Linked DNA regions of Homo sapiens. The protein of the gene in region 2 binds, or shares a complex with, the protein of the main gene of each other region. Each region holds a gene or a part of one and is shown on either strand. Other genes may lie near its edges.

The links. Proteins that work in one complex are often made in the same cells at the same time.
Region 1: the proteins of ASB7 (region 2) and LZTS1 are in contact, whole or in part, in a crystal structure (PDB 8Y1U), measured with the Homo sapiens proteins. Residues at the interface, in NP_937886.1 of Homo sapiens: Asn46, Trp48, Ala56, Ile79, Phe82, Tyr87, Met90, His91, Asp116, Trp118, Val123, His126, Tyr127, Ser147, Lys149, Thr151, Gln155, Leu156, Ile159, Arg160, Phe182, Arg185, Tyr186, Ile189, Lys190, Arg210, Leu220, Leu223; in NP_001349813.1 of Homo sapiens: Arg346, Glu348, Leu349, Leu352, Met353, Glu355, Gln356, Leu358, Leu359, Glu360, Lys362, Leu363, Arg364, Ser365, Tyr366.

Annotation. Positions count from the first base shown.
Region 1 is NC_000008.11:20,293,944-20,300,975, forward strand, and holds part of LZTS1 (leucine zipper putative tumor suppressor 1), read right to left. Parts: intron 1-7,032. UniProt on the Homo sapiens protein: Involved in the regulation of cell growth. May stabilize the active CDC2-cyclin B1 complex and thereby contribute to the regulation of the cell cycle and the prevention of uncontrolled cell proliferation. May act as a tumor suppressor.
Region 2 is NC_000015.10:100,598,688-100,605,604, forward strand, and holds the start of ASB7 (ankyrin repeat and SOCS box protein 7), read left to right. Parts: upstream 1-3,901; 5' UTR 3,902-4,359; intron 4,360-4,527; 5' UTR 4,528-4,626; intron 4,627-6,917. UniProt on the Homo sapiens protein: Probable substrate-recognition component of a SCF-like ECS (Elongin-Cullin-SOCS-box protein) E3 ubiquitin-protein ligase complex which mediates the ubiquitination and subsequent proteasomal degradation of target proteins.

The DNA.
Region 1 (7,032 bases), on a different chromosome or scaffold from region 2:
AAATAAATAAAATAAAAAGAAAAAAGAAAATGGAAAGAACTGGGTTCCTGAGGTGTGAAATAAAAGTTCTTGGCAGTGAGTATTTGTGTGTGTGTAGGGGAGACAGGGAGAGGATATGGATAGAGTGGTTTTTAAGCATCCTTTCAACCCTGAGGTGTTGTGTTTGCATGTAGAGTATCTGAAGTTTTTTCAGCACAGGCTCTTTTGTGTCCTGACAAATCTTAGGACCCTAGAGTTGGAGGTCCTGTCTGCGGCTCTAGAATAGAAGTAAGTCCAACATCAAGAAAAAGTTTCTAAGTCAACAGATGTCCGAGGTACTGGTGGAAGCCCAGAGAAGCCAAATGCCTGGTGCTTCTAGTTTGATAGATGAAGAAATCCTGTCTTGGGAATAGCCACGCATCCTGCCCACACCTGCCCCACCAGCCACCAGCCGGCTGCACAGCCTTTGAGCAGGGCCAGCTGCGGGCCTGGCAAGGGGAGGAGCCGAAGGCAGCTGGGGAGTCCTTCCCAGGCCTCCTTCAGGGGCCGGCTCGCTTTACAGTGCAGGTGGAGGCTGGGGGCTCCGCCTGGCTCCTCTCATTTTCCCCACCTGCCTGCAGTGTGGTTTGTCTGCTGGGGCCACGGAGGCGTTGGGGCTGGGGGAATTTGATAGGCAAGGAGGGGGAGGCTGTCTCCTCAAGATGTGTGCGCTGTCCAGTCCATGCTTCCCTCCCTCCTCCCCTTGCACTGTGGAAATGCCCTTTGGGGGTGGCGGGGAGCAGGGAAGAGCTCAAGCTGGAGTGTCTGAAGGTTGCAATAAATAAGGGAAGCTACCCTGAGTGTGTAGATTGTCCTTCTGGACCTCTGCTGGGGATGACCATGGGAGACAGAGGGGAGGGCAGACCCCACACAGGTACCTACAGACACCAGGCATGGGGCTGCCTCTCTGGAAGGTCAAGGGCAGCCTCAGGGCTCATCCCCATATCCCTCAAGAGTCTCCCCATCTCCCTAGCTAGGGAGGCTTCTGTTCTTGGCATTTTCCTATTATCTCCCCCAAGCAGAGTGTGGGAGGCAAGGAGCCTGGGTTGGGGGCCCCAAGAGGTCCCAAGCCAGCTTGGGATGGCATGAGTTCCCTTTCTAACCTCTCCCTGGGTGCCCAAACAAATGTTATCAGTGACTCAGGGAGCCTCCTGTCAAGGTCAGTCTGCCCTGCCTGACGCTGTCACTGCTGCCCGATGTGAGAACCGATTCTGCTTCCTACCTCCTGCCAGCCCCGGCACCATGCCTGGGCATTGGGCAATGGATGAGCTATCAGGAGAGCCCATGTGCCAGGTGGAGATCACCCCCAGCCTTCTGCACAAGGACCACAGGTCTCTTAAGTTTCTGCTTTCCTGGCTGGTCTGTTCTGCAGTGTAACCCTTTCCCTCCCTGGAGTTTCCCACTGAGATTGCAGACCAAGCCCTGTAGATTCCCTTGTGATTCCATCTCCTCTTGCTTGCCTGGCTTTCCAATTTCTGTGGCCCTTGAGTGGCACAGAGAGATCTGAAGTGGCTGGGTAGAAAGAAGCACTGTGGGCCTTAGCGCCATCCATCTCTGCCATTTGGGACCGAGCCCTAGACCATTCCTAAGGCCTGGTGCTATATATCAGATGCGGGACACACATTCTCTTTCAAGGGGCTTATAACCTATGCTGGGAGGGAGGATAGAGATAAAAAGCTAAATATGAATACATGGGAACAAGTGCTCAAATGGGAGTGACAAGTACGTTATACACTGTAGAATTCAAGGAACAGGGAGTTCACAGAGGGCAGAACCCTTCTCTTCCCATGGCTAATGTCCTTTCCTGCCTCCAGACCAGGGGTGGGAAGACACTCAGTAGCAGGTGGACCCCTCTGTCTCCTCCCACTGAGCCAGGACCCACTCACCTATAATGCCCCCCCAATCCAGTGTCACTGGGGTCACCAGGGAAAGGTGCTGGCAAACCCCAGGCCTTGTTTCCCTGCCTCCTTCACGCTGTCTTCCCTCCTTCCCTCTCTCCCCTCTCCTTGCATGTCTATACTCAATTCTCCCTCTTTACAGCAGGAATATAATGTTCGGCTGCCTTACACCCACTCTCTGAATGCTGCCAGCGAATAATGACTAAGGTGGTGGGTGGAAGTACAGCAAGTTGAGACCAATTTAGCAGTCCATGGTGCCAAGAGGAGGGTGATTTAGCAGCAAATGGCTCTGCAGCAGCAAGAAGAGTGAAAATGTCCCCCAAGCCAACAGGCCAGGGAGCCAAGTGCACAGCCCTGCCCTGATGCCTTGGGCGGGGATGGCCTCAGCCACCTGAGAGGTTATTCTGTGAGGTCAGATTCATGCACAGGAATGGGAGGGTTTGAGAACAATGCCCACTCCCAACCCCATCTCACCTCCACTTTCAACCTCCTTGAGGGGCCCCAGTTCTTGTACCCCTCTTAGGCTGAAAGTCTCACCTAGACTGGCCCATCCTCTTCCTCCAGAGGATCTGTAACTCTAATGGGTTCGTGGCCACCTAAAGACTGCCCCAGGCATGGCATCGGGGAGGGGGCTGTCTGAGCTCACCTCAGACCATGCCACAGATTGGCCAGCCCAGGTAGGCAGAGGTGTGGATCTCCCGGGTCCTGACATCTTGGGAGTCTCTGAAGATTTGTGTAATGTGATGTACTTGGGCTTGTGAGTTTGGGTATCACAAGAAAGCACGTCTCAGAGGGAGAGACAATGAGAGTGGATGAATGAAATGGATACGTGTGTGTGCGTGTGTATGTGTGTATGTGTGCGTGTGTGCATGTGTGTGCATGTGCTCTGGCACTGGCCTGAAGGCAGCCCTATCTTCTCCCACAATGATTAACTGACATGAAGCACATCTATTGGCGATCTCCATGGGGCAGCTCTTTGCTGTCTTTGTTCCAGGTGCTGGACGCAACCCACATCACATCTGTTCAGACACCGATTTGGCCTGTCACTTAGTAAGAAAAATCACCTCTCTGCTGGATTGATTAGATCAATTAGCTTTAGCTGTTAGCTAACACACACATTCCCTCTCTGCTTGTCTTCTGTCTCCGTCTTCCGCCTCCCTTCGCTCCCCTCCTTCCCACGATGCTCCATCCAATTCTCTTCTCCCCTGGGGGCAGCCTCCATGTGTGATTGCCCCTGAAGTCTGGTTTCCACAAATTGCTTGAGCTACCAGTGAAGAGACTGCTATCCCATTTTAGTTCAGAACGTACTTGCTCATGGACAAGGTGGAAACACTGAAATATATTATGCAATTAAGGTTGGTATTCCAATGAAATGTCATTAATTCAAATTCTGTGGAGGCAACATTTGCTCTAATTTCAACATGGAGTGGACTAAACCTTTTGAATTGACAAGCTATAAAGAAAGAACTGACATATGATAAATTTCATTCTCTAAAGCAAATGCCAAGTAGACATTCCATTATCCTAGCTACATCCTACTTTATTGTGTTTGTTTGTTTGTTTGTTTGTTTTTGAGACAGAGTCTCGCTTTTTAGCCTAGGTTGCAGTGCAGTGGTGCGATCTCAGCTCACTATAACCTCCGCCTCCCGGGTTCAAGCAATTCTCCCGCCTCAGCCTCCTGAGTAGCTGGGACTACAGGCGTGCACCACCATGCCCAGCTAATTTTTTGTATTTTTAATAGAGATGGGATTTCGCCATGTTGACCAGGCTTGTCTGGAACTCCTGACCTCTGGTGATCGGCTCACCTTGGCCTCCTAAATTGCTGGGATTACAGGCATGAGCCATCACGCCAGGCCCTAGTTTATTGTTTATTGAGCTTAACATATATGCATCACAAGCACTTAGGGAAAAGGGAGATGGGGGGTGAAGTGAGCACAGAAAAACTGAGGAAGATTCGAATGCCCTCATCATGCTTGAATTACAATAAATACAAAAGTAACTGCATTCTTATAATTTTAAAAATCTCTTTTTCCTGCATATTAAACACTTGCCAACAATTCGATGAGCCTAAATCCATTTAATTGGTGAACCCCAATGACTTGGTAGTTACAGCCCAACATTGGGACTCAGAACAGCTGGTGTTCATATCTCAGCATTCCTCTTAAAAATCTTGCATAAACTCTTTCACCTTTCTTTTTTTTTGTTTTTTATTTATTTTTTGAGACAAAGTCTTGCTCTGTCACCCAGCCTGGAGTGCAGCAGTGTGATCTCCACTCACTGCAACCTCCACCTCCCGGGTTCAAGAGATTCTCCTGTCTCAGCCTCCCAAGTAGCTGGAACTACAGGCGTGCACCACCACACCTGGCTCATTTTTGTAGTTTTAGTAGAGACAGGGCTTCATCATGGTGGCCAGGCTGGTCTTGAACTCCTGACCTCAGATGATAAGCCCACCTCAGTCTCCCAAAGTGCTAGGAATACAGGCATGAGCCACCGTGCCCAGCCCTCCTTCAACTTTCAAAGGCGCACTTGGTTTCCTCATCTGCCAAATGGCAAAGGGAATCTTCTCACAGAGTTGTTGTGAGGTGTAAATAATAATAATAATAATTTTATTCCACTTTTTAAAGTGTAAAGTCCTGTACAAGTAAAAAGCGCTATTGAAATCACCATTAAGGAAGTCTAGGGATGGTGGAAGTCAGTGTCCAGCAGGAAGCAACAGTGTGAGGCTGGATGCGGTGGCTCACACCTAGAATCCCAACACTCTGGGAAGCCAAAGTGGGAGGATCACTTGAGGCCAGGGGTTCAAGACCAGCCTGAGCAACATAGCGAGACCTTATTTCTACAAAAATTAAAAACAATTAGCCAGGTGTGTTGGTATGCACTTGTGGTCCCAGCTACTTGGGAGTCTGAGGAGAGAGGACTGGGGATCACTTGAGCTTAGGAGGTCAAGATTGCAGTAAGCTGAGCCGTGATCACATCACTGCACTCCATCCTGAGAGAAACAGCAAGATCTTGTCTCTAAAAAACAAACAAAAAACCAGTGTGAGAGACACAGGATGAAAACTGCAGCAAAACAGAGGGCTTTGCCAAATGGCAAAAGGAGCTAACTAGCCGTAAGCTCACCAGCTATGCTCGACTGTAGCTGACACATCCCCATCAACTTCTCCAACCCTGGGAGGAGGGATCTGGAGGCTAATTTGCACGCTGGCTGGAGGCAGTGGTGAGAGGTGAGAGGTTGAAAACCTCCCATTTTTTATGCACCACCTCTGTTTGGTCTGGGTGGCTGGCCAAACCCAGCATAAGGAGGCAACAGGCTCTGGCTAAGGTTCTTGGAAGAGAGAGCCCTGTCTCCTCAGCTCTCAGCTTGCATCTTGGAGCCATGAACTTGGCTCCTGCTTCGCTGACTCCCTTCATACCCTCCTCAGGTTCAACTTCAAGGTTCAGTTCACAGCCACCTCCTCCCTGGTAAGGAAGGTTCTGGCTCACCTGCCTCCTGCTGAGAAACTGCTGTATTCAAAGTTAGTATTTTAATTGCAAAAACCACAATTACTTTTGCAGCAACCTAATACAATCCAGTTTTCAACTTACTTGTCATTGGTTCAGGTGTGCCAGTTCTTCTTCCCAACTGTCATCACAAATTTTAGTCTCTAAGCATTATTTCGTCTTTTTTGCTGTTATTCCCCACTCCCTGGCACCTCACACGGATAAGACCTTTAATAAATAGTGAAATGCAGAGTTTTTCAAACTTGATCAATGATCTTTAAAAGAAAAACTTAAATCGCCATGGAGCCCCGAGAACACAGGTAGTAATTCCTATATGAGAAATAACAGGGCGATGGAAAGGAGATGGAAGGAGAATCACTTGACTGCGTCGCCTCGGAGAAATCATGGCCAGATTACCTCCCCAAACATGGTAGCAATTCACACTCTCAACTGCAAGCCTAGGAGTGTCCATTTCAGGCTTCAAACTGTAGCAGCACAAAGATCTATTCAACAGCAAACTCAAAGAGCTAATATGTAAATCACCTCAAGATTCCCCACGTAGTTGGATACTTCTTTGTTGGCAAAATCCCAGAAACATCTCATCATTGCCCTGGAACCATGTGGCGGCTCAAAGTGCAGGATTTTAAAACCCCAGGTCTAGGTCACACCTAGAATGGTCCCCTTCCATAACTGTGCTTGTGGGTTGATTGACCTGGAGATAGAGTGGGTGGGGGCGAGTGTTCCCTCGGACTCCCGAACTGTTGGTGGGGCCTGAGATGGCCCCATCTAGGGAGAGGCCTTGAAGGAGCTGGCCCAGTAACAGAGGAAGGAAAGTCAGTGGCCACACTAGCAAAGGGCACCCATGCAGAAATCCACTGTTGGGAACAGTGCTCCCTGCCAAAGGTCTCTGAGAGCTCTCATCTTTCCCCTTACCTTATTAAACAAGCATTTACTAAGGGCATACTCATAGTATCTACTGAAAGCCAACACTGTATTTTTTTTTTCTTTTTTGAGACGGAGTCTCTCTCTGTTGCCCAGACTGGAGTGCAGTGATGTGATCTCGGCTCACTGCAAGCTCCCCCTCCCGGGTTCACGCCATTCTCCTGCCTCAGCCTCCCAAGTAGCTGGGACTACAGGTGCCCGCCACGACGCCCGGCTAATTTTTTGTATTTTTAGTAGAGACGGTGTTTCACCGTGTTAGCCAGGATGGTCTCGATCTCCTGACCTCGTGATCCACCTGCCTCAGCCTCCCAAAGTGCTGAGATTACAAGCGTGAGCCACAGCGCCCCGCCGCCAACACTGTATTTTGAGCTGGGAACTCATGATGCAATCTCTGCTTCTAGGAGTTTTGTAGACTCCTCAGGAGCCAGTGAGTAAATGCCATAATATACTGGTATGATGGTAGGGACTCTGAGGAAGGTACCTGACTCAGAATTGAGGAAAAAACAGAGGAAACTTTCTTGGAGGAGTTGATCCCTATGGTTAAAACCCACAGTGGGGCTGGGTGTGGTGGCTCCTGCCTGTAATCCCAACACTTTGGGAGGCTGAGGCCAGCAGATCACTTGAGGTCAGGAGTTCAAGACCAGCCTGACCAGCATGACAAAACCCCATCTCTACTAAAAATATAAAAGATTAG
Region 2 (6,917 bases):
CTCTACCCAGCCCCATCGCCTTTTCTGCCAGGTACAGCTGAACTAAGTTGGGCTAACAAGGCAAATGATGGGCTCCAAACTGTGCTGCATCTGTCTTTATGGTGGCCCTCTTTATTACACCAAGATCCCCAGACACAACCTGCTGGCCCAGAACACTGCCTGCTGCCAACTAGAGCATAACCTGCTCATTCTCTCCACCACCAAGTGCTTTATGGGCCAGGACACAGCCTCCTGGGCAGTGGTCCTTGACCTTGGAATCTGACCTTGACACTGACATCACTGGAACATTAGGAAAAACCCATGAGCCTTGGACTCCCTAGAGACCAGCTAAATCAGAATTGCTGCAGTGGTGCTGGGGCATTTTTCCAATGACAAAGTCTCTTTCTACTCAAGAAATAAACTCAATTCTGATTGAGTCAGGGTTTCATGAATCAAGCTTCATGAATACTTATCCCAAATTATTTCACTTATATGTTGTAAGATGTTCCCATTTTTGTGAGTTTTATATTATTAACTAAGTTAATGGGAAATGAAGTGTATCTGTTAAAACCTAATCAATATTAACTTGTTATAAATATTCCGCAATCTAAACTGCTTTTACATCATTGAAAAGTTATAAAAATTAGCAAATCTGATAGCACCAATTCAATAAAGCAATTTAAAATTACCTAGTAGCACATTCTGTGAAACTTTGACAATATGATGTTACTTGGCTATGATATAATCATGTACTTCAATCATTTGAAAATGGTTGTTTAACTCAAAGGCAGGATTTTTAATGAAAAACAAATGGCCAGAAATACAAAGAACTAGGAATTAGGAGACAACTCTGTTTCTAGGCTCTTCACCAACAAGTTCTTAGGCCCCCATCTCTCTACTTAACTATCATTTAGCAAATACACCATATGAATTGCATGGGTGCCGAGTCTGCTATAAGAATGAATATGTTCTCCACAACAATTTACATATTTATTCATTTCTCTCTCCCTCTTTTTCCTTCTTTTTGGGAGTTCAAAACTTCTTGACTCTATAATTAGTAAATGTTATAAAACTGAACTTGTACATTATATTTGAACTGTTAAAAAGCAAAATTTGAGGCTGGGTGCAGTGGCTCACACCTGTAATCCCAGCACTCTGGGAGGCCGAGGCGGGTGGATCACCTGAGGTCAGAGGTTCGAGACCAGCCTGGCCAACGTGGTAAAACCCCATCTCCACTAAAAATACAAAAATTAGCTGGGTGTGGTGGAGTGTGTCTGTAGTCCCAGGTACTCAGGAGGCTGGGACAGGAGAACTGCTTGAACCTGGGAGGCGGAGGTTGCAGTGAGCCAAGCTCGCACCACTGTACTCCAGCCTGGGCGACAGAGGGAGACTCCATCTCAAAAACAAAAACAAACAAAATTTGAACAAATTTAAAGATGTAAATGGCTTTTATTAGCAATTTATGAATCTGGCAGCATCTCAACTAAAAATTTAGAAACGGTGTTCTGATTAGCTGAGCAGAGGTGGGCTGAAAACGGTTGAAGAAGCAAAAAGAGAATAAAAGACAGATTGGTCATTTCAAAGTTAAACTTTCCTCACAGAGACCAAATGGAGGAGAGACTTCTTTATCATGCTGGCTCAGGTAAATCAGGCCTCCTTGACTCCTTGCTGTGTATCTTCTGGATTTTTTGACAACTGGCCCATTTCTAAGTTGTTTGATTATGTGACACCTAGCACCAGCAACTCCATTCTGATTTGGCCTGGTCTGTTGGGCCTAGTGCAGGGGTTTAATCTAAAACAATGGCTTCCTATACATTTCATTTAACAATACTAATAAAATACCGCTTTTATTTTATTTGTTTACATTGGAGTCCTGCTGTTAAGCAAAAAAAAAAAAAAAAAAAACAGGGAGAAATCATGGTAGAATCGAAAGACCGAAAGCTACTAAAAATTGATAGCATTTAATAGTCCTGAATAAGTTGTTTCTAATTATAATTCAGCTACTAATTTCAAGAAGAAATGGAAATTTAGAAAGTTGAAATTATGAAATATGATTGCTGGGAAGTATAATGGGACAAAAATTAAAAAGCTGAATCTATCTTCACTGCCACTACTGCACTTCTACTCTGGACAACTGCAACCGATCCCTTCCAAAGTGGTTGTATCCAGGCCCACCCTACACCCACTTCCTTCTGAAAAACCAATCCACTTTCCTTAGGATACAGTCCAAACTCCTAAACAAGGCTTACCAAGGCCCTTCAAGATCTGACTCTCGGCGTCTTCTCATCTCTATGCCCCACTCCCCAGTCTCATTACCAGTCATTTTCCTACCACTCTGCTTCAGCTACCCTAGCCTTCTTTCTGGCAGTTCCTGTAAACAGCAAAGCATATTCTAGCATCAGAGGCTTTGCATTTCTAATTCTCTCTGCTGGCAAAATTCTCTCCCTAGATCTTGGCATGGCTGGCTCTTTGTCATTCAGATCCCTGCTCAAATGTCACTTCCTCAGAGACCTTTCCTATCTGTCTTAGTCCGTTTCCTGTTGCTTATAAAATAATTCCTAAAACTCGGTAATTTATAAAGAAAAGTAATTTATTGTCTAGTTTTGGAGGCTGGGAAGTCTAAGACTGACGGACCACGAGACAGCACCGCAAAGTATCACGTGGCCAGGGGGCTGAGCAGGCTCACGAGTTGTCAAGTCTCTCCTTAAAAAGCCACCAGTTCTACCTCCGTGATAACCCATTAATCCATGAATAGATCAATCCACTCGTGAAGACAGAACCCTCACGGTCCAACCACCTCTTAAAGACTCTACCTCTCAGTACTGCCACATTGGGGATTAAATTTCAACATGAGTTTTGAAGGGGACAGATATTCACACCATAGCACTACCTATCTAATACAGCCCATCACGTCCTGGTCAAAATCGATTCCACCATTCTGCTTGATTTTCCTCATATAACCCATCCCTATCTGATAATTTTGTGTTTGTTTCCCCGAAATCACTATCTTGTTCACTGTTGTCTCCCCAGGGACTAGAACAGTGGCCAGTAAACACTTGCTAATGAATAAAGTGCTTAACAAACGTGTCTTGATCAGTCTATCTCGCGTTTTCCCCACGACCCCTCTCCATTCATTCACAGGAACCCGCCAACGTTGCTATCCTTTCAGGAAGGTCCTTGGATCGTCATCGCTATCCCAAAGAGAGTCCGTTCTCCCACTTCAGGCGAGGCATTGCCAGCCTGGAAGCTAACGGGGTCTCAAGGACCGACAGCCGCGCCAAGACCGGGCACTTGCGTCTGACAAGCGCTGAACAGGGGCGGAGAAACAAGGCACCCCTCTACTCGCTTCCTGGAGCCTGCCGCCCTCCCAACCTTAAGCCCTGAACCAGGCTCTCATTTGGCCGCACTCGTGCCTCCCCTGCTGCCAGCACGGCGGCCGGTCCCGGTTACCTGCCTGGGATCTGGCTCAGGCGAACTCTCTTCACACCGCCATTTGAGGGAACACAAATGCCCGCTCTGGGCCACCGTAGTTCACAGAAAGTACAAGCTGGCACCTCCTCCCGCATGCGCAGAGACCGCCTTCGGCGAATAGTGTCTCTTAGCAACGGCTTTGAGTCCCTCCGCCAGGGGCGGAGCCTCGGAAGCCACCACGGGGAAGCTGTAAGGGGAAGTGAGTGAGACCAATCGGAGACGAATCTCTGCCCCGTTCGGCACGCCTCCCTTAACTGTCGCGAATGCAAAGGCAACTTTACGGCAGGCAGAGGGTGGGGGCTGCCGGGGGTAAGGAGGAGAGAAGGAAGCAACCAACCAACCAAGTCGTCCCTACTCCCTCCACCCCCACCCATCCCGGACCTGGTTTACGGCTCCAGGCTCAGGCTCCACTGCGGGCGCTGATTGGTTGTTGAAGGCTTGGTCCCATCCCAGTGACCCCAAAGTGCTGAAGGGAGGGGGCGGGGGTGGCCCAGTGCAAAGTGCATCCCGAAAGCCCCCTGTCCGGAGACCCCACGGCTGGCACTTCGGGCCCCGTATGACCTGGGACCTCGCCGTCCCGAGACCTCCTGGGTCCCTCCGTAGCTGGAAGCCTCCGGCCCGGAGCGCGGCAGCCCCCTGCTCCGAGCCCTGGACCGGGACTGCCCCCCCACCCGAGCCAGGACTTCCTCCCTGCCTCCCTGCACCTCTGCCCCAAGGCTGCCCGGCGGCCGGGATCGCCACCTCCTGCCTTCTCGGCTGTTCGGATGTTCGCCGGGCTGGGGCCGTGAGGCACCGAGGAGGATCAGGAACACCAGGGTCCGGCCCTGCCTGGGGTATTTCTTCAATGGAGAAGTTGGTGAGTGTAGAGGAGGCTGAAAGGAGGAAGAGAAGCAGCAGCTGAGGAGACAGGTAAAGTCCTTTACTTCCCCCGAGGGGAAGAGTGCTGGCTGGGAGGGTAGGAGGGAGGAAAATCTCTGCTTTTTCTTGCCTGCCCTTGCCACTCTCCAGCCCCTTTCCTGAGCTCCCCCCTCCCCACCTCTGAGACACTACACCACTCACTGGTTTCTGTTTTTCTAGGTTTGAGCTGGCTGAAGAAGACGCGAAAGCAGGAAGAGGTCTGCCCACCTATCAGAGAAGCAGAAGGCACAGTGCCTCTGACCAGCATCGTCTGTAAAGGTAATGAGCCAGCCCTCCCCTCCCCCGTTGTTTATTCCTGGCCCCTACCTCATTAAGCAGTGGTTTATTTTCAGGGTGGTTGCCTGGGAATGCAACCTTTCCTACCCCCCCCACCCCCACCCCCAGTTTCCCAGGAAAAACAAAAACATTACCCGTGCCTGATACTTAACATTTTATAACTTCTCTACCCAGGACAGTATTTTCCCACTTTCTTTCTGTACAGTGTGTTTCTGTGTTTTTCATTATCTTTTGGTACACTGTGCCATTTACTCTGCTCTGAGGCTTTGAGACCTTTTTGTAGCTACCCTCCCTTCCTTACTCTCATAGGAATTCCTCAATTCCTTGTTAATTGCTTGTTAATTCTGAATGACTTTCCTTTTTAATTAAACCACAATTTACTGTTTTCCCCCTTACTCTTTCCTATCACCTTTCTTCTACCTGCATCAGAAAAATCTTTTGAGTTATCTAACTGACAACGATTTGGTAGAGAAAGGTAAATTATTGGCCTGAGATTTATGAGTTTCAGAAAATAGTTTGATTTTATTTCCTACTAGAAAGCCAACCTGTGTACCTTAAGAGTGTGAATGGTATGAAGACAACATTATTACCCTGAAGCACTTAGGCATAATTAACTCTTTGGGCTTTCTGTGTGTTTGTGTGTGACAAATGTGGATGGGCTTTGAAACTTATAAAGATACAATGTTTCTTACACCTCAGATTTTCTAGGAGAACTTTTAAAAATTTGCACAATATCTTATTAATCGTTTGACTCAGGAATTTAAAAACAAAGGAACCTTTTGGTGTGTTTACATATCTGGGTCTTAATTTTAGCACTCTATAAAAAAGATTTCTCATTTTAAAACTTTTACGTAGAGTTTGCTGGATTGAAATTTAAGCATCTAATTCATGTGATCACATTTCTGCTGCCATATTTTGTTGCTGCTTCTGAAAATGCTCTGAAAGTAAACTTAGGACATTAGTGTAATTCCTAAAGGGGGGATATAAGCATGGAAATTATACAAGGTTTAATTCCAAAATTAGCCAAATGGATGACTTTTTTAACATCCAGTAGCAAAAGTATAAAGTGACTTGTTAATCTGAGTTATTTTAATATCCCAAATTGTTTAGGGAATTTTTGTTACAAGGAAGTGCTTAAAATAGCAGAAGTTAATATTTTTGATTTCCTATGTTCCACTGGACTTTCTGCCCTCCACAAAAAGAAATTAGTATCTTTACTGATTCTGTTAATTCTTAAGACATAGCTAAAGAGATAAAGACATAGCTTTTAAGGGGATCTGAGGTATGCATATTCTTGAGACATGGAACTGCATGCCAAAAGAAGAGATTCTAGGGAATAGGATTTAGAATCAGTATCTACCAATGACTGTTCCCTGTTGAAAACTTAGGGCAGCTTTTGTATGTATATGTAGGGAATCAGGAGTACTAGACTACATCATTTCAGTAAAAGCTACCCGGAAATCTTTAAAGGCTAATTTTTATTATGTAAGTATGGAAGTTGTCAGGGAGATGGCCTAATGATTACTTCAGAACTTTTAAAAAATGCTAAAATATTTGAAGTATGTTCTAAAGATCAAAATGAAGTACTGTGTTTTGTATTCAAGCCTCTCAGTTAAATATTTTTTCAGCTTTACATGTAACTCTAGGACGCTTTCATTTCTAAAGAGTAGTTTCACCTGAGATGGTAAAGGGAAGGAGTCTGTGGCTAGTCCAGCACATAAGGTAAGAGAGGATAAGTCTTTACTCTGGCTCTCAGCCAGTTCATTCTCATTGCTTAAATCGTATTTCATGGATCATCTCATTTTTTAATAGTTTTTCTAAGATTAGGGAATATGTGTAAATTGTCAACATCTGTCATGTTTCTAATATCAGAATGACTGAGAGTATTTGGTCTAGATTATACCAGGCATTTAGAATATTTAATTTGGGTATTTATTTACCAACATGGCTAGTTAGGTAGCTTACATTTTTTAACCTGGCAGTTAGCTTTGTATTAATTCTATTGCCAATCATGTGGCTTAAAAAAAATCCAATTTATTTCGTCACCAAATATAGATTTATAATCACGTAGGGAGAATAATTGATTTTAATTGAAGATATGCAATGATGCATCTTTAGTATACTGTGGCCAGTACTTACATTCTTTACACATAAAGTGATGTCATTTACAATTAGTTAATACTATGACACATACAGTATCTCTTTAATTTGTTCACGTTTAACTTTGGTGACATAGAGATACACACCATCCCTAAAAAGTCTAAAGCCAGATA